Linked DNA regions of Homo sapiens. The protein of the gene in region 4 purifies or fractionates together with the protein of the main gene of each other region. This does not show direct contact. Each region holds a gene or a part of one and is shown on either strand. Other genes may lie near its edges.

Evidence for each region.
Region 1: the proteins of PER3 (region 4) and CCDC88A purify together in Homo sapiens (affinity purification with mass spectrometry; one large-scale study listed by BioGRID and IntAct). This does not show direct contact.
Region 2: the proteins of PER3 (region 4) and CRY2 purify together in Homo sapiens (affinity purification with mass spectrometry; one large-scale study listed by BioGRID and IntAct). This does not show direct contact.
Region 3: the proteins of PER3 (region 4) and FAT3 purify together in Homo sapiens (affinity purification with mass spectrometry; one large-scale study listed by BioGRID and IntAct). This does not show direct contact.

The regions. Positions count from the first base shown.
Region 1 is NC_000002.12:55,293,622-55,298,938, reverse strand, and holds part of CCDC88A (girdin), read left to right. Parts: intron 1-2,415; coding exon 2,416-2,681; intron 2,682-2,882; coding exon 2,883-3,342; intron 3,343-5,317. UniProt on the Homo sapiens protein: Bifunctional modulator of guanine nucleotide-binding proteins (G proteins). Acts as a non-receptor guanine nucleotide exchange factor which binds to and activates guanine nucleotide-binding protein G(i) alpha subunits.
Region 2 is NC_000011.10:45,880,028-45,884,479, forward strand, and holds the end of CRY2 (cryptochrome-2), read left to right. Parts: intron 1-886; 3' UTR 887-3,217; downstream 3,218-4,452. UniProt on the Homo sapiens protein: Transcriptional repressor which forms a core component of the circadian clock.
Region 3 is NC_000011.10:92,797,236-92,802,552, reverse strand, and holds part of FAT3 (protocadherin Fat 3 isoform 1 precursor), read right to left. Parts: intron 4,718-5,317; coding exon 644-4,717; intron 1-643.
Region 4 is NC_000001.11:7,786,564-7,791,880, reverse strand, and holds part of PER3 (period circadian protein homolog 3), read right to left. Parts: intron 5,161-5,317; coding exon 5,045-5,160; intron 4,684-5,044; exon of another isoform or gene 4,635-4,683; intron 3,837-4,634; coding exon 3,635-3,836; intron 1-3,634. UniProt on the Homo sapiens protein: Originally described as a core component of the circadian clock.

The DNA of each region.
Region 1 (5,317 bases), on a different chromosome or scaffold from region 4:
TGTGAGCCACCTTGCCCGGCCTGGAGGGTTTTTTGTTTTTTTGTGTTTTTTTTTTTTTTTTTTTTGAGACGGGTTCTCGCTGTGTCACCCAGGCTGAGTGCAGTGGTACTATCTCAAATCACTGCAACTTCTGCCTCCCAGACTCAAGCGATCCTACCACGTCAGCCTCCCACGTAACTGGGACTACAGAGACCCATGCCACCATGCCCAGCTAGTTTTTTTGTATTTTTGTTAGAGACAGGGTTTCTAACATGTTGCCCAGGCTTGTCTCGAACTCCTGTGCTCAAGTGAGGCACCTCATCCAGCCTCTGAATTATTTGACCAATATATCATAGTTACTCTCTGTACTCCAGAATTGTCAGGTTACAAGGAATGCATTTGTTTTGTTCCTTTTTGGATTATAAAATTATTTTGTCTCAGTTGTAATTTTATTTTATCAATTAATGCTATGACATTATTACAGTGATCTGAAATACCTAATTTTGAGGTGGGTTTCTTTTTTTAATTTTTATCATGTTTTTCAGATTTCTTTGTTCCTTTCCCACTCCCACTACTTCATTTGACTAGCCTTAAAAGAAATAAATTATTTAATTAAAAATGTTTTTACATCCAGTAGAAAAATGTAGTCTGAAAATAGGATTTTTTTTTTTCTGATTTGAAAATTTAAGAAACTCTTACTTTTGTAAAATGTTACATAACTTGAGCCAAATTCTTTCGTGGCCCACTTTACTCTCTGTGACTGGGAAACAATGGAAAGTTGCATTTTCTGTTTTGATGTACAGTTTGTTCGTGATCAAAACAAATCCGTACTCTTAAGGAACACCATAGATTTGAGGGAGTTTAATTCTAGAACTAGCAAATTTTCATTTTATATAGTTGCTTAATGTCAACTGAGTCTTTTAAGGTTATATAGGCACCATATCAACAGTGGACAGCAAGAACAATAAGATGATCAAGACATTTAAAAAAGAATAAAGCACTACATATTTGATTGTATACTTTTACTGAAATGTTGTAAGTAATTGCTTCATATCTTTATTTAACTTTCCTTATGTGTATGCTCTTTAAATTTTTTTAAATGTTTAAAGTTATCCATGCAGGATGAACAGAGAAGCCTTCAAGTAGTAATGAGGACTTCTTAGATAAGCAAATAATTAAAATAGAATTTTCTGCATTTAGAACAGTTTTTGGTCTTAACATACTGAAATAATATAAAATTCACCTAATGAGCCAGGTGCGGTGGCTCACACCTGTAATCCCAGCACTTTGTGAGGCCGAGGTGGGCAGATCACCTGAGGTCAGGAGTTACAGACCAACCTGGCCAACATGGTGAAGCCCCGTCTCTACTAAAAGTACAAAAATTAGCCTGGCATGGGGGCGCATGCCTGTAATCCCAGCTACTTGGGAGGCAGAGGCAAGAGAATCACTTGAACCCAGGAGGCGGGGGTTGTAGTGAGCTGAGATCGTGCCACTGCATTCCAGCCTGGGTGACACAGTGAGACCCCATCTCAAAAAAAAAAAATACACACATATGTATATTTATATATAATATATATTTATATATAATATATATTATATATATTTATATATAATATATAAATTTATATATTATATATTATATATTTATATATAATTATATATAAATTATATATATTATATATAATATATATAAAAATACACATTAGATGAAATATATATATATATTTTGTCTAATCATGTTCTTATCCTAAATTGTGAGGCATTTTATTTTATTTATTTTTATTGTTGAGACAGAGTCTCAGGCCAGAGTGCAGTGGCGCGATCTCTGCTCACTGCAACCTCCACCCCCCCAGTATCAAGCAATTCTCCTGCCTCAGCCTCCTGAGTAGCTGGGACTACAGGCGTGCACCAGCACGCCTGGCAAATTTTTTGTATTTTTAGTAGAGACGGGGTTTCTCCATATTGGCCACGCTGGTCTCCAACTCCTGACCTCGTGATCCGCCTGCTTCGGCCTTCCAAAGTGTTGGGATTACAGGCGTGAGCCACCACGCCTGGCCTGCAAGGCATTTTATAACTATTTGAACCTGAATTTTAAAAAATATATTATTCACTTATTTATTCATTCATTTACTCAAAAAATATATTGAATGCTTTGTATGAGGCTCTGTTTAGGCTCTGAGTATGATAGTAAAAGCAAGTCTTTGCCCTTATGGAGCTTACAATAGTTGTCAGTTTGACAAAATAAGGAAGCAGGCTATGGCAGACAATTGTTAGACTGATAAAAGATTGACATGGTTTACTAAGCATTTCTAAATAAAGCTTGAAAGTAAATTTGGCTGTTCATATAATTAGCACACAGTCAACAAATGTTATTACTCATGAAGTATTAATCTCAATTCTATTATTGAAATCTCAACACCCCATTTACTCCAAAAGCAGGTGCAGTTAATAACCAAAGCAGGCCACAAAGCCACAGCAGTGGAGAATTTAGCCTGCTTCATGACCATGAGGCTTGGTCCAGCAGTGGTAGCAGTCCAATCCAGTACTTGAAAAGACAGACCAGATCAAGCCCAGTGCTCCAGCACAAAATATCTGAAACACTGGAGAGTCGACATCACAAGATCAAAACTGGTTCCCCTGGAAGTGAAGTTGTTACTCTACAACAGTTTTTGGAAGAAAGCAATAAGCTTACCTCAGTACAGGTTAGTTTTATCTATGATGACCTTAATTTAGATGAACACCACAAGTTAAATTTCTGTAATTGAACTTCAGAGCTTTTTTTTTTTGGTAAGTTAAGGAGTATTAAGAGGTACCACAATTTTATATTGCACAGTCTGCTAAATCAGGAAAGTAAAAACATGGCACTATATTCACTAATCTGCTTTGAATTTTTTTTTAAACAGATAAAGTCCTCAAGTCAAGAGAATCTTTTAGATGAAGTAATGAAAAGTTTGTCTGTCTCTTCTGACTTTTTGGGAAAAGACAAACCAGTTAGCTGTGGTCTGGCCAGGTCAGTAAGTGGAAAAACCCCAGGGGACTTCTATGATAGACGGACAACTAAGCCTGAGTTTTTGAGACCTGGTCCTCGAAAAACTGAAGATACCTACTTCATTAGTTCTGCGGGAAAACCTACACCAGGCACTCAAGGAAAAATAAAATTAGTAAAAGAATCTTCTCTGTCACGACAATCAAAAGATAGTAACCCTTATGCAACTTTACCTCGTGCAAGCAGCGTGATCTCAACTGCCGAAGGAACTACACGAAGGACAAGCATCCATGATTTTTTGACCAAGGACAGTAGACTGCCTATATCAGTTGATTCACCACCAGCTGCTGCTGACAGCAACACCACTGCAGCATCTAGTGAGTACCATTTACACCAGTGGTCCTCTCATATACTTGACATCCCAACACATACTATAGGTTCTTGTGCCCAAAATGATTTAGCTATAGACATGCCTGAGCCTCTATATGCCCAGGCTAGAAACTCAAGAACAGGAAGGTCACATTTTCTAAACCAAACTTTTGCCACTATTAGGATGCCTAGTGATGCATTCGGAATGTTGGCAAAAGATAGCATAGGACCATTTACTGTGGCCCATTCATCTCAGCCATTCTTATCCCTGAATACAGAATTAGTTAGTAACATAAGTGGGTTACCTCCTAGGCCAGTTATCAGAATAACTGACCAGGCTTCTGCCTCTTTGGATAAACCTGCACAGAAAGAAAATGAACAGTTTTCTGATCATCAGAACCCTAGTAACAGTAACCTACAGTTTTCTATAAATAGCAACAATCTTGTCACTTCTGCATGCCTCTATCCTGATGACACAGAAGCTGCATTGTTGGTTTCTGAGGATAATCAAACTGTTTGGTATGAATATGGTTGTATATGATCAAAACTGCACAATATAATATATTGATGTTATTTGATATACACTGCTTCTCTAATATGATTTGAAAAGTTGCTGTTAACAAAATATCATTTGGCTAGGTTTTTATTTTTTATTTAAAATTGTTGCACAGTGTTCAGCTGTACATGATGGCATGTATATTAATGTGAATGTGTAACCACACCAAAACCTGCATGAAATATTAATTACTTTGTCCATTTTCTGCATGCCTTTAAAAACCTTAACCATACATGCTCCTCCTTCACATTTTTTGTTGCCTGATAAGATTGTTACTTTGATATCCAGAAGCATGTTAAAACAGTTGCATGCTCTCTTACCAAGAAGACATTTCCAAGTCATATTTGCTTTGTTGCTTCTGGAAAAAAATGTTCATTTCCTCCCTCCCTTCCTCCTCTTCCCACCCCTCACTTGCTCTGACTGTCACTCCTTTTTTTCTTCCAGAATGTGTACTTTATATTACATATGTACAGTATCAGTAGGGAAAATGTAAAAAGATGTTGTTTTCTTTTGTCATTTAATTAGGCCATCTGTCCTGTTTTAAAGAAATAGTTAATAATTCAACACTTTATATAACAAATATTAACTAATACCCATATTTATAAAACATTTTTCAGATTTAAAAGATTGTTAATACTTATAAACTTAGTGTTATTCTTAGAAAACCCCATCAAATTTAAATGTGATTTACACAGTGACTAGGAACATTTGTATTTATTGTTTCTTCTCTGCACTTTTCATCATCTGATAAATACAAGAGCTCAAGTAACTGTCTTTTCTTCAAGATGGCTTCTATACTTGAAATCAGTTAATACAATAGTTTTTCCAGTTCTTTTTTTATAGAGAGTCAAAGAGAAATAAACCAAATTATATTCATTGTGTTGGAAATTTGTATTTTTACTTCTAATCAAAAAGGGTAGCAAGTTTACAAAGTGGTAAAAATTGTTACTTCTATAATTAATCTATTATTAAATTATACATGTATATCCTTAAAACAGAATTTTTTTTAAATGAATAATCACACTAAAATGTAAAATTAGAACTTGTAACCATTTAAACAAGTATGTTTCTAGTAGAACAAATTTTAGAACTAAGAATAAATACACTCTTTAGCTTAAAAAAAAAAAAAAAAGTAAGAAAATATTTGTTAACTTTGACTCCAGTGCAAAGAACTTTTATTTTTGTGTTCACAGCACTTTTAAAGCAAATTAGCTAAATTTGAATCTCTAACTCCCAGATTGCTAAAAACAAAAAAACCCATAACCCTGATCCATTTACTTCCAGAGAAATACACATTGGCATTCTCTCTGGAATGTTTTTTGCCATTTGGATTTAGCCTATAGCTGATAAGGACTCAGCCTGGCACCTGGAAGGAATGCCTTCAAATGTGACCATGTGGGGATGAAATTATGTTATACTTGTTGTTG
Region 2 (4,452 bases), on a different chromosome or scaffold from region 4:
TGTCTCCAAATACAGTCACCTTCTGGGGTACTGGGGGTTAGGACTTCAACATAAGAATTTTGTGGGGGACAGAATTCAGCCACAGCACAAGTGTATAGTACCTGACCCACGGCAGGCTTAGTAAGCCTACTTATTGTCTACCTCACCCACATTTAAACTGCACAAACTTTTAATGGGACGCTGTGTGTCTCTGTAGACTCCCAGACACACTAAACCTATTTAAACAGACAACTCAGCATTGTGACAGGCGCACTCTGTCCTTCCTTTATTATCAGGGATGAAGCTGTTTCTTCTCTTTGCCCCAGATTCCGGATGTCATAAATCTTTAAAATGAGTCATCCTTGTGTCTCCTCTCTCCCTCCTGCCCCCACAATCTTCCAGCACTGTGCCAGGGTGCTTTCATCTATATGTGGAAATGTGCTCACCTGCTGATTGTAAACTCAGTCATTGCCTTACTCTTCAAAATTACTGGTCCCAGCGGGCTTCTCTTCCAGCCATTTTTTCCTGATTCTCCATCTCTGGCAGCAGCTGCTGTGCCTTGATTCAGAAGCTGCCCTTGTCATATCTGAGCAAGTATCCCCCAGGGCTTCACGTGACTCTCACATAGCCTTGTCCTCCTCCTCCTCTGCTGTCCGCAGCCCTGGGTGGAGGGCCTGCAGTGGGGAGCTTGTCCTGCATCAGCACCTCAGAGGGGCAGTATTCCCTCATCCCAGTGGCATCCCAGCAACAACCTGTCCCCAGGTACCGTGGCCCTTTCAGCTCACTCTTTCAGCTCTTCTCAGGTCCCGCTCTGAATGTCCCCAGAGAAGCAGCCAGAGGAGCTTGTGTCCCTGGGCAACTGAGCAGCCTCCTGAATGCTCCTTTTGCACTTGTTTTTCTCTTCCAGCTGCAGAGCCCTTGCTCCGTGAGCAAAGCCTGGGTGCCCAAGCAGCCACCGCAGCAGCAGAGTACAACCTGCAGAGAAGCTGATCACCGGGCAGAGATAGAGCGAGCATGTGTGTGTGTGTGCGCGTGTGCAGAGGAGGGAGTGGTGTGCCTGTTTGTGTGTGCATGCATCTGTTGACACTCATGATTCTGAATGTTGCCTGGGCTGGGGGAGTACCTGTAGCACGCCAGTGCTGTTTCCCGGCCTCCAGACACAAGGCTCGAGGTTATGGCAGTGACTTTCAGCTGAGACCTGTTCCTGCAAGCCAGCTGCCTTGTCTGAACAGAACGTAGTGGTAGGACCCTAGCTGGGATTCTGGCATCTGCCTCCCTAGACCTCCTTCCCTCCCTCCTCACGTCAGGCTGTGGAGCAGGAGCACAGCAGTTCTGGCTGTTGTCCAAAGCATGGGATTCTGGAGGCAGCCAGAGCCCTGCTGAGTTCCTGCTTTCTGACCTGGAGGCTGAGCAGGCCGGAGTGGATGGATGCTGTCCAGACGTAGCCACCTGGCCTCTGTTTCTTATTTTAAAATTCTCTGCTACTGGGCTCAGTCCCAGGCCCTTCCTTGGGCTTCTGGGACTGAGCATGAGGCCATAGACAGATCTAAAAAGTTTCCACCACCCTACAGAAGTACACACAGATACCTGACTGGTGTGGGGTATGCCTGGTACTGTAATAGGAGCCTAAGACAGCACACCTACCTTTTCAGGATTTAGAACCTAAAATTAGAAAGAGAATCCCAGCTGTCATTGTTCCTTCCCCAGAAGCTAAGAGCCAGCCTCAGAGCCTACCCAGGAGCTGTGAAGGGGCAAGGGTCAAACTGACTCACTCTACCAGGAGGAGACCAGGTTGCAGTGGCGTAAGGCCCCCTGGTTTCTCTGGCCACACTCCAAGGCACCACAGTGCTGCCAGTGAGGACAGCTGACACCCAGCCAGGGAAACCATTCTAGTCTTTATTCTGTTGGCTTCCAGGGCCTGTCCTGGACTTGTCAGCATCCAGACTGCCATGTCAGCTATCCCAGTAGCTGAGCTCCAAGGACTCAGGCAGAGGGACTCAGGGATGGGGACTGCCAGGGGCAGTTGGCAAAAGTCCAAGTAGAGATTACACCCAGAACACCATTCCTTCCAGGAGCAGTAGGTGGGAGGTTTGACCCAGAGAAGCCAATCCTTGCATTCCAGGAGTGGCCTGTGCCTCCCACCTCTTCCTTCCCACTGCCAAAGGCCTGTGTTGAGAAAGATGTCATGCAAAAGGACGACGGTGGCCAACTAAAGCAAGTCTTCCTTCCACCCTGTGGCCTGCACTTGAGCCACAAAGTGTGTGTGTGTGTGTGCGTGTGTGGTACGTGTGTGTGTGTGTGGCTATGAGGCTGATTCCTGTTTGGATTTTTGTCCTCACGTGTATCATTAAGCTGGCCTTTGGGCCTTTTCCTTTCTACCTCCCCTGTGACCTTTCCTAGCCTCAGATCTGTTAATTCTTTTGGCCCCAGCCCTGTCCCTCACTGTCCTCTGTCCTTGGACCAGAACCCTGGGGTCAGACCCATCTCCTGTAGCTGTCCATCACACTGACAGGCTTCTTCCTGAGATATCCTCAGGTTTTCTCAGCCAGAGAGCTGCCTTTAGAGTCCAACTGTTGTACGTATGTCACCTTCACTAGAAATGTCCCATCATCGTGGGAGGGGAGCAGGGCACAGGGGATGGTGTGCATTCAGAGCATTGGGTTGGGGGCTTCCCTGTTCCCTCAGCCCCAGTCGAGAGGAAAGAGAATCGGGCCACTGCCAGAAAGAGAGTCAAGCAAACCTGGAAGGGCAAATCTGAGAGTGGGAAGGCCAAAGGCCGAGGCCCAGATTTAGTATTCACTAGCAGCGCCTTCGGGTAGCAGGATGATTCCTTTTCCTGCCTGTCTGCTGCTGGCTCTCTTCCCTAAGGTACAGGTTGGCAGGACCACCTCCGCCTACTTCTCCACCATCCCTAGCATGTCAGCCCGTTCCCAGATCAACCTGCCAGTGGAGTCAGGCAGTGCACTCCTGGAGCCAAGAGGGAAGGGCAGGGTAGAGAGGGTATGTCCAGTAGCCTGGAGCTCCATGGTGGCTTCATGCCTCCCTTCTCCCAGCTCAGGTGGCCCTGAGGGCTCCCTCGGAACAGTGCCTCAAATCCTGACCCAAGGGCCAGCATGGGGAAGAGATGGTTGCAGGCAAAATGCACTTTATAGAGATTTTCTATTGCTGGGAAGGTGTGTTTCTCCCACAATTTGTTTGTGAATATTCACTTGTTTTATAAATGTCTGACCTGTCTTGAGTAAGTTTGTGCTGTCGTCAATCTTGTGGGAGGCCTGGGAACCAGGGTTTTGGTAAGCCTGAGCCTGAATGAAGCTGTCGGCCACCCCATCTTGGTTCTGTGGGAGTCAGGAGCCTCCTATTCCTCCTTAGGAAGGGGGAGCAGCCAGAGCAGACTGGAGCAGCTTGGTCAAGAGTTGGTCCAGAGCTTGGTCAAGAGTTGGGGGTCAATTGGCCAAAATAGTACAGAGCACTCTGGCCCAGAGTGAGGGTCCTAAGTGCCATCCTGCAGTGCCACCCAGCCTTGCAGCCCACTTAAACCCCCTCCCAGGCTGGGGGTCAGTCAGTGCAGGGCCTGCTCCACGCCCTCAATCCATCCTTTAATTCAATGCAGCCACTTAAGCTGCAGCCTGTGGTGAGGAGGGGATGCAGGCTCTCTGGCTGTGACTAGGTGGTTGAGATCTGCCCACAGCCAAGCCTAGGGCGCCTGGATGCTGGCTTTGTCTCCTGGCCAGAGAATGGCCCCTCTCTGTGCAGTGTGCCCTGCTTCCATGCTAGGGGATGCTAGCCTTGGACTGAAAGCTTTATTAGCTCACACCCCAACTTTCTGGGAAGGGGCCCAGGCAAGGCCCAAGAATATCACAGTCTGGCCTGCACAGAGTGAAGAAGGAGAAAAGGGGAGGAACCTGCCTTGGGAACTTGTCTCATTCTTGGCTCTGCTCTGAAGCTCCTGCTGGCCTCCCTCATACCAAGACCTGGGCCTGCCTTTCCTTCTTGCCCTTCTGGCTTCTCTCTAATAATGGCTTTGGGTTGGTCTTTGGAGCTAAGATAACTTTGCTCTTGAGCAAAAGGTTCTGGAAGAGGGAGTTGTCCTTTACATCCACCCCTGACCTGCTAAGGATGTTCCCTAGCTGAGGCAGGTCTACATTCTAAGGAACGATTAGTAGCCATGATGGCAAGACTGCTTTCCTGAGAGGAAAAGCCAGGCACCATGGCAGCAGATGATTACCGTGAGGGCCCAGTGAAAGGGGCCTGATCACGAAAGCTGAGAAAGTAGTGGCCACCCCTCTGGGCCCCAGGGACAGGGAAAAGAGAAGCAGCCATGACCTTTGGCTCTAGGTATTGGGATATTCTCAGGGCTGGTGGTCGGAGGTTGCCTTCTGCACGGAAGGTGCCTCCAGCTCCTTGCTAGGTGCCGCACTGAAGGAAAGGGGCCAGCATGACTGGTCGGCAGTCCAGATTTGCAAATAGGACTCC
Region 3 (5,317 bases), on a different chromosome or scaffold from region 4:
TGACATTTTCTGTGCCTTCCTAATGACTGACTTTGTCTATCTTGGCTTTCCTCTTGAATTGCTACTTGCTATTCTGAAAGACAGAAAAGAAATCCAAAAAATTTTGGTTGTCAGAAGAAATACCCCTTGATTTGTAGTGATAATTTAGGATTTCTCAGGGAAGGATCAAACCATTCCATCTAATGTGTGTACATGTGTGCACAGGTGTTGCCATGGCCAGGGGAAGTGTGCATGTGAAGCTTACTGTGATCAAGCTATTTGTTTTGCTCAGCATTGCAAAAGGTAGAAAAAAGGAACATGCTTAAAAACAGAACCTCTCCACCAAAAAGTTGTTATTTTCATTCCTTCAACTGAGATATTTGGCTGGACTCCTTTTTAAATAGGAAGAGGTGACACAAAGACTAGTTACCAATATGGTTAACACATTTACAGCAAACCTGTGAACTCCAAACTAAGGCTGAGTTAGCAACAGCCAACAAGCAAAAAACGCAGTCTGCTCAGAGATCCTTTACTCAGCTCCAGAGAGGCTTCATTACACTGGACTCCTTATCCCATCTTCCTTCTCTCTTACTCTTCTCCCCGCCATCTTCCATCTTTCTTTATAAAGCAGTGCACATAATGAAAACTGGGGGTATTTACTCACCTGTAATATGGTAGCTCACTTGGCGATTAACGTCGGATGTGTCTCTGTCCCAGGTGCTGAGGACGGCTACCACCTCGCCCGGTGGGTCGCTCTCCTTCACATTCCCTCGGTACACTTCCTGCGCGAAGACTGGTGCATTGTCATTTATATCTGTCACTCTGACAGAGACCAAGGCCGTGGAGGAAAGAGAGAATGCCTCTCCAAGGTCAGAGGCCACCACAGAGAAGGTGAATGTGGGGTCTGTCTCGTGATCTAGGTCCTTCAAGGTACTGATCCAGCCCGTGTTGCTGTCAATATTGAATGCTTCCATTACCTTTTCGGGCTGGGAATCCGAGTGGAGGGAGTAAGTGACTTGTCCATTGGCTCCCCAGTCCATATCAATAGCTCTCACTTGTGTGAGTTTGGTGCCAACAGGCATCCCTTCCATTATAATGGTGTCATAGCTTGAAGTTTCAAAGACTGGCTTGTTGTCATTCAAATCCAATACCTTGATATCTACATCCACAGTAAACACAATGTCTACTTTGTCCAGGGGTATAGTGGCTGCTACTTTAAAGTGGAAAGCTGGGCTGGTTTCACGGTCAAGGCGTTTGTCAAGCTTAATAGTGCCTGTTTCCTGTTCTATGACGAATATGCCCCCTTTGTTATTTTCTGGCCGTTCCCCATTAACTGTGCTGAACCAGACATTCTGACTGGGCAAAATCCTCAGGGTGTCCACTGTACTCCCAATGGCTGTATCTTCTGCAATGGTAAAGGAATACTGAGACTGGGTGAATGATGGCAAGAACGTTTCAGGGGGCAAGACGTGGATATAGACAGGAATGAGGGAGTGCTTTACTGGGATGCCCCCATCTACTGCTTTGACAAAGAACGAAAGCACTGTATTTTTCAGCTGGTTAAAATTACCCTTTGTGACCATCCAGCCATTGTCAGGATCGATTTCCAGGAGGTCGGCCACTGAAACAGAGGCCTCGCTATAGAGGGAATAAGTAATCCTTGAATTTGCTCCATCATCGGGATCTATGGCTTGAACTTGAGTGACCAAGTGGCCCCTTCCAACATCTGCCCTGACACTGGCTCTATATTCCACTGTCATGAACTGGGGAGCATTGTCATTTTCATCCACAACAATCACTCTCACAGTGCAGAAAGTTGTTCTCCCTCCACCATCAAGGGCCCTCACAAAAATACTAACATCCCCTTCTAGAGGGTTTTCCCGGTCTAGCCTTTCTGTGGTGATGACCTGCCCATTGCTGTCTATGAGGAATCGATCCTTGGCAAAGTCATTGATGATGGCATAGCTGATCTGCCCATAAGTCCCTGGATCACCATCTGTGGCTCGAACATGAATTACCTTTGTTCCTGCAGCCACGTTCTCTCTCACCTCAGCTACGTATGTGCTTTGTGAAAAGGCAGGGCTGTACAAGTTAGCCCCAAGTACCCTAATATGCACCTGTGCAGTGCTGGTGAACAACCCATCAGAGACAGACACATTGAGACTGTACAGAGGCTCCATCCGCTGCTTCCGATGGTTGGACAATGTGATAACTCCACTCTTGCTGTCCATCAGAAAGCTCGTCCGGTCATTCCCAGATAAAATGCTATATTCCAACCGGTCAAAATCAGAGCTGTCTGCATCAGAGGCTTGTACACAGGTTACAAAATGGCCCCGGGGGGCTAATTCACTCACATATGACTCATAAATGAGCTGATTAAAAACTGGAGGGTTGTCATTTACATCAGAGATGTAGATATGAACGAGAACCTCACTGCTCAGTGATGGGAAGCCACTATCTATTGATCTGACTTTCAAAGTGCAGTGTTGTACTAACTCATGGTCCAGCATTCGTGCTGTCAGGATTAAGCCACTTGAGCTATCTATGTGAAAATAATCTGTGCTATTGTAGGTATCCTGGACAATCTGATAATGTACCATTTTATTGTTTTCTGAGTCTGCATCAATAGAGACAACTTGTAAAACAGGTGTCCCAATAAGAGATGCTTCTGATAGTGTTGTATTGTATGTAGGCTGATCGAAAATAGGGGGGTTGTCATTTACATCATTAACTAGCAAGTCAACAGTGACTTCAGCCCTAGCACCAGTAAGGGCGTCGCTGGCTCTTATTGTCAGCTTGTAAGCAGATGTAACTTCATAATCCAAAGGGCTAACAACTTTCAGGACCCCAGTGTCAAAGTCAATGTTAAACTGTTTAAAAGGGTCCCCATCGATAATGATATATATGATGCCTTGGCCTTCTGGACTGGTGGCATTGATGCTTAGGATGGGTGTGTTCATTCTGATGTCTTCATTGACAGATGCTGTATAAAAGGGCTTATCAAACACAGGCATTGCTTTGTTGACAATAGTGATGGGAAGCTCCACAGATGTAGACAAAGAAGGTTTTCCGCCATCCTTGGCTAGGATGGTGACTCCATACTCAATGTTGGACAAGTCAGAGTTGAATGCTTCCTTTAAAATAACATTCCCTGAATTAGGGTTAATTTCAAAGTGGCCATAGTCATCCTGCAGGACATAGGTCACTTCTCCATTTGGACCTTTATCTTTGTCAATGGCTGTCACCTGATAAATCAGAGTCCCGGGTTCCGCATCCACTTGAACAGCAGCATAGTATGGGAGGCCCACAAAGACTGGAGAATTGTCATTTATGTCTTCAATGTTAACCCTGACCACCACTCTGGCCACACGCAGATGGTCCAGCTCACGGCTGGCTTCTACCACCAGCTCATATAACTCTTGTTCTTCACGGTCAAAGGGGACTCCAGTCGTCTGAATGACCCCTGAGGTAGATTTTATCTTGAACTTATTTCCTGGGTTTAAGATGCTGTATTTTAAGGGCTCATTAAGGCGATTTCCAACTGCATTGACAATAGCAACTTTGGTTATGTTAGTGTTGTTCTCTGAGATTGAGGTGGAATAGAAGCTTTGTGTAAAGTGGAGGCCGCTGTCCATGGCTTCTTTAACCATGATGGTGACCATGGAGGTACTGTAGAACTTTCCATCAGACACCTTAACTATCAGCATGTAGTGATCCTTGGAGAGGTTGTTGTTTTTTATGGTAAGTACTCCACTGTTTGAGTCAATTAAAAAATGATCCAAACTGCCTTCCATTAGGCTGTATGTCAGTTCAGGGGGTACCTCAGAGTCAGGATCTGTGGCACTAACTTTCAGAACCTCCACTCCAACATAGGTAGGTAGAAGTAAGATAGTCTCAAACACAGCCTGAGTAAAAACAGGTGGGTTATCATTCACATCTGTCACCTCAATGTTGACTTCAACGGGACTCTCTGCAGTCAGTTGGGGGCTACCACTGTCTCTCACATGCACATGAAAATGGAAATGGGCAATGGTTTCATGGTCCAGGTTGGCAATTGTTCTGATTGCACCTGTACTGGAGTCCACCGTGAAAAACTTTTTTGCTGTTGACTCCACAATCTGATACACAAGCAGAGCATTCCGGTTGCTGTCAGCATCTGTGGCTCGAATCACCAGTGGGCTGTTATCCAAGCTCCTGACAATGCTATTAATTGGGGCAGCCTCACTTAGGCTGCCTGAGTATTGAGAAAAGAGAAAAACTGGGGCATTATCATTTTCATCAACAATCTGAATATTGACTGTAGCATTGGAAGCCATTCCTGCCATATTGGTGGCCTGAATGATGAGTTGATAAGAGGATGTGCGCTCATAATCCAGGGCCTTCTGAGTGGTGATGACTCCAGAATATGGATTTATGGTAAAGATCCCATTAATGTCTCCATCTTTGACTTCATAAATGAGGGTAGATTGACTGATGGCAGAGATTAGAATGACTGATGTTCCAATGTCAACATTTTCATTTACTTCTGCTTGGTAGTCTTTGTGAATGAACTTGGGGTGAGAATTGTCAGACATGGTGACGGAAATGCGCACAATTGCAGTAGCAGACATTGGCGGGGATCCCTGATCTGTGACTTTGATGGATAGGACAAACTGACCCATCGTCGTCATGTCTGGTTCTTTGCAAATGGTGATGATGCCTAGGACCGGTTCGATCTTAAACATGTTCCCAGTGTTCCCTAAAATACAGAAATCAATGGTGAAATGAGTTACATGTGGGTCACTGAAATCTTTTTGATTAACTCTTTATCTATAGGTACCTTACTGCAATGTGGCAAGTAGAAAGCAATTATAGTACTCATCTGTGTCATTCTGAAATAAAATGAGAGGCTTCTCTTTCAGGGGTACTGAAAAGGAACCAAAATGAGTTTCCCAGTATTATAGTAAATTTCAGATCAGTAACTTCTAGATCCAGGTTAAAAACACAATGACAATGACACAGTCTTATGTGCATTCAAGTTGGGAAATAAGAGAGCCCGAAGGAGAGATCTTTCTGCTAAGAATGTATAGGACTTCCTTATTTCCAGCCTTGTGAGAAGACAGATAGATTGGGAAGCCCACATATGAATGCCACTGGTTTAGGTAGCAGTGTCATATTTTCTGTTCTAGGTTTAAAGAAAGAGGGTTGTGGGAATAGTTTCAGAGCATTATAAAGTAGTCAGTTGTTTTCTGATTATCCCAAAAGCAAACTTCGCTACATGGAATTGGTATTATTTCACCCTATCAAAAATGACTTTATCCAAAACACTACTTTGGTGAAGGGGTTTGTTCAGTCAGGT
Region 4 (5,317 bases):
AGTGCAGGCTGAGGTGGTCTCAGAGAGAGATGAGGAACTTGTTGGGACTGGAGTAAAGGACACTTCTGCTATGCAAAGAGACTGGCAACTTTTGCTCCTGGCCTAGAGATCTGTGGAACTTTGAACTTGAGAGAGATGATTTAGGTATCTGACGGAAGAAATTTCTAAACAGCAAAGCATTAAAGAGGAAGCAGAGCATAACAACTTGGAAAATTTGTAGCCTGAAGATGCAATGGAAAAGAAAAACCCATTTTCTGGGGAGAAATTCAAGCCTGCTACAGAAATTTGCAGAAGTAACAAGAAGCCAAATGTTAATCACCAAGACAATGGGGAAAATGTCTTCAGGGCATGTCAGAGACTTCACAGCAACCCCTCCCATCACAGGCTGAGGCCTACGAGAGAAAAAATGGTTTTCTGGGCCTGTCCAGGCCCCCACTGCTCTGTGCAGCCTTGGGACATGATGCCCTCCATTCCAGCTGCTTCACCTCCAGCCATGGCTAAAAGGGACCAAGGTACAGCTCAGGCCATAGCTTCAGAGGGTGCAAGCCCTATTCCTTGGCAGCTTCCATATGGTGTTGGTCCTGCAGGTGTGCAGAAGACAAGAACTGAGGTTTGGAAACCTCTGCCTAGATTTCAGAGGATGTACGGAAATGCCTGGATGTCCAGGCAGAAGTTTGCTACAGGGGCGGAGCCCTCATAGAGAACCTCTGCTAAGAGAGATGTGTAAGGGAAATTTGGGTTCGGAGCCCACACAGTCTTCACTGGGGCACTGCCTAGTGGAGCTGTGAGAAGAGGGCCACCATCCTCCAGACCTAAGAATGGTAGATCCACCAAAAGCTTGCACTGTGAGCCCAGAAAAGCCACAGACACTCAATGCCAGCCCATGAAACCAGCCATAAGGGAGGCTGTACCCTGCAAAGCCACAAGGGCAGAGCTGCCCAAGGCTGTAGGAGCCCACCTCTTGCACCAGCATGACCTGGATGTGAGACATGGAGTCAAAGGAGATTATTTTGGAGCTTTAATATTTAATTATTGCTTCAGTGGATTTCAGACTTGCAAGGGGCCTGTAGCCCCTTTGTTTTGGCCAATTTCTCCCATTTGAAATGGGTGTATTTACCCAATGCTTGTACGTCTATTGTACCTAGGAGATAACTAACTTGCTTTGGATTTTACAGGCTCATAGGTGAAAGGGACTTGCTTTGTCACATATGAGACTTTGGACTTGGACTTTTGGTCTAATGCTGGAATGAGCTAAGACTTTGGGGGACTGTTGGAAAAGCATGATTGCATTTTGAAATGTGAGGACGTGAGATTTGGGAGGGCTTAAGAGCAGAATGATATGGTTTGGCTGTATCCCCACCCAAATCTCATCTTGAATTATAGTTCCCATAATCCCCATGTGTGGTGGGAGGAACCCGGAGGGAGGTAATTGAATCATGGGGGCAGTTTCCCCCATGCTGTTCTCATGATAGTAAGTTCTCAAGAGATCTGATGGCTTTATAAAGGGCTTCCTCCTTCACTCGGCTCCCATTCTTCTCCTTCCTGCCATCATGTGTAGAAAGACATGTTTGCTTCCCCTTCTGCCATGATTGTAAGTTTCCTGAGGCCTCCCCAGTCATGTGGAACTGTGAGTCAATTAAACTTCTTTCCTTTATTAATTACCCAGTCTCAGATAGTTCTTTATAGCAGCGTAAGAATGGACTAATACAGAAGGGAAATATCGCAGTAATCAGTAATCAGCAAAAATGAAAAGGCTGAAAAGCCACAGGCAGTGCTGAAGGAAAAATACCTGGGGAAAAAATGGGAAAGACCTGGCAGACAATATTGTGTATGTCCTGTTCACAGCTGTATCTGTATCCGGACTAGTTCTTGACCCACGTGATTATTAAATAAATGTTTACGGAATGAACAGCTAACAAAAGCAGAGAAACAAATACAGACAAAGGTTGAAAATGTGTATTTAGGAAAGGGGATGAGAAATAAAATCAGTATTTTTGAAAGATGGGAAAAGAGATGAGCTAGAAGCAAGCAGGGATGACATGCATGTTTTCTAGAGCTTATGTAAAAATATTTTTAAAAGATGGGGCAATCTATAATTGGAAGAAGAAACACGCAAAGCTACCCTTCATTAAATTAACTACTGGGTAAAAAATTAGAAATAGTAGATAGAATTTCAGATATAAAGATGAAAAAGTTATGGAGATCTGTTTCACAACAATGTAAACATCCTTCACAGCAATGGAGTGAATGCCTAAAAATGATTAAGATGGTGTATTAGGTCCGTTTGCATGCTGCTGATAAAGACAGACCCAAGATTGGGCAATTTACAAAAGAAAGAGGTTTAACGGACTTACAGTTCCACGTGGCTGAGGAAGCCTCACAATCACGGCAGAAGGCAAGGAGGGGCAAGTTACATCTTACATGGACGGCAGCAGGCAAAGAGAGAGAGCTTGTGCAGAGAAACTCCCATTTTTAAAGCAATCAGATCTCATGAGACTTATCCACTATCACGAGAACAGCATGGGAAAGACGCCCTCATGATGCAATTATCTCCCACTGGGTTCCTCCCACGACACATGGGAATTGTGGGAGTTACAATTCAACATGAGATTTGGGTGGGGACACAGCCAAACTATATCAGATAGTAAACTGTATGTGTTTTTTACTACAATGAATTTTTTTTTTAATTAGAGAGAAGGGCTTGGAATCAAAGAGAACGCTGATATATATATATATATATTTTAAAGCTCTTTAAGAGACACTTCACAAAGAATATAAAATAATGAAGGATGACTAAAAAGAAATAAATTAAGATCACACAGGACTGAATGTCACAAAGAAAACTGCAATAGGCATCTTTGAATTATGAAAGAAAAGCATTCCAGAAGGAAAACAAAGTAATAAGACTCATAAGTTTCAGGGGCAAGAAAAACTGTAAGAGAGCTAATGATCTGAATTTTTTTTTTTTTTTTTCCCCAGAAACAGTTTCACGCTTGTCGCCCAGGCTGGAGTGCAATGGTGTGATCTTGGCTCACTGCAACCTCTGTCTCCCGGGTTCAAGTGCTTCTCGTGCCTCAACCTCCTGAGTAGCTGGGATTACAGGCATGCACTACCATGCCTGACTAATTTTTGTACTTTTAGTACAGATGGGGTTTTACCATGTTGGCCAGGCTGGTCTGGAACTCCTGACCTCAGGTGATCCACCTGCCTCAACCTCCCAAAGTGCTGGGATTACAGGCGTGAGCCACCTTGCCCAGCCTAATGATCCAAATTTTATCTCCAAAGTAAAATTTCTCATACAAGGAAATCATGAAGGAGGAAAAACATTTAATTTTAACTTAAAGGAAACAGAGCCTTCATAGCAACTAAACCACTATACAATACGCTGGTAATGAAATAATATTTATGACATATCATCTGTGAAACAGATGTGACAAAATGGAAACAAACGTATTGAGTATGTTATCAGAAGCTTTTAAAATGCTGTTTTCATCACGTGACTTTCTATAACAGGAATAAGAAAAACCAGATAGTGTGCATGTTCTAAATAATATGTTAATTTCTGTACTATTCCTGTAAGAATGAAACTGATCTTGATGAGGAAAGATAGACATCTGAACATTGGTCCTGTTACCTCTTTGGGTCCAGTTGTTCCAGAAAGGAAGCTGAGCTCTGGCAGTGTGCGCGTAGAATACCCTCATGTCTTGAGGTGCAAGCAGGTCAACAAAGTGAGAAGACGCCAGGACATCTTTCTTACGATTCAGGATCAAAGCAGCCTGTTCAGAAATGTGCACTAACCTTCCAGACAGAAATGAAAATACTGCCACAAAGGTATCCTATGAAAAACATTTAAAATAAATGCAAATATTGAGATACTCACTAGCAATATTCCCTGAAAGGTAAATTTCTTCTGGATCTCTAACATGACCAGTATCTTAAAATACACAGGCACAACCTACAAATGCAACAAAACTCCTCAAATAATTTTCTCCAACATGCTTCTTAAATCTTCTCCTAAGACCTGCACTTCACCTACTGAAGGTTCAATTTCTATGCCAAAAAATATACTAGCTTATTCTATGCAGACTAAAATACGTATGGCACATAACTTCTCTGCAAACTGTGCCATACACCTGGGTGGACGGTGTTCTCGTCATCAACGCAGATTCTATGCTTTAAGACACACTGAAGATTCACCTTCTTCAAGAAGCTGTCCTTGACAAACCTCATTACATAAGCATCACTGCTCTAATTTTTTCCATTACACATAAATGAAACTTATTTATAATCAGCAGTTTGTGTTTGCTAGCATTGGCATACTTTCCTCTCTAGCTTTATTTTAAATATCTTAAAAGACAAATATTTTCTTAAGCTATTTTTAAAAATCTCCATAGCACCTCCTACAGTACTATGTACACACCAGTCCATAAAATAAGCACTGTTATAATACTAGGGATTGCGCACGTTCCACTATTACAAAATCTTTAAGTAACAATTATGTTACTTAAAATAAGTAATCTCCACCGTATCAACCAAACATGAAGATTACTCTGTCAAACAAGAAGAGAGATTAAAAAAGATATACTAAAGGTCTCTTCCAAAATTTTAGGAAAAATGACAGCATCTCAACTCACCTGTTCTATAACATCCAGTTGTTACAACTTGAAGTAGTAGGTATTGGAACTAAGAATGATATAAATAGAAATTAACAATTCGGAGATTAGAATAAGGTGCAGGAAATTACTCTGCAGTGTAATTTTTGTTTTCTCTTAATTCAAGAGAGCTTGGGAATGCTAAGGAGCTAGAAGCACCTCATAACCAAAGTCACTGAGCTGCACAGCACACAGAACGGGCTGCTTCTGCTTTTAGATGTTTTCTCTGGCAAGGGCGGAGAAGCTACACCATGCCTCTTTAGCAGTTCCTCCTTTGCTTCTCTCAAATTGTGGTTGCTGAAACGTTGTTATCCTTCTTAAAAGCCTACATCTAGAGCAGGCCCTTAGGAAAAGTCACCCAGGTTGATATGGCAAAATGCATGAATTCTTACTGTGTTTTTGGAAGTGTGTTCTGAAGCGATAGTGGCCAGCTCCTCAAGACTGTACATGCTCACATCTGCCTGAGGTGCTCCATTCTGACTGAGAATCTGGAAAAACTCACTGTTTGCTAAGAAACACAGGGAGATAAACAGGTAGTCCAGTGACAACAGTATCTTTAGGAAACCATTTCATCACTATCAAGCTGGATTATTTTTTTCGGATGAGAACACCTCAGTGCATTTTTCTCAAAAACAGATCATTTTCTGCTTTTACCTAAAATACTG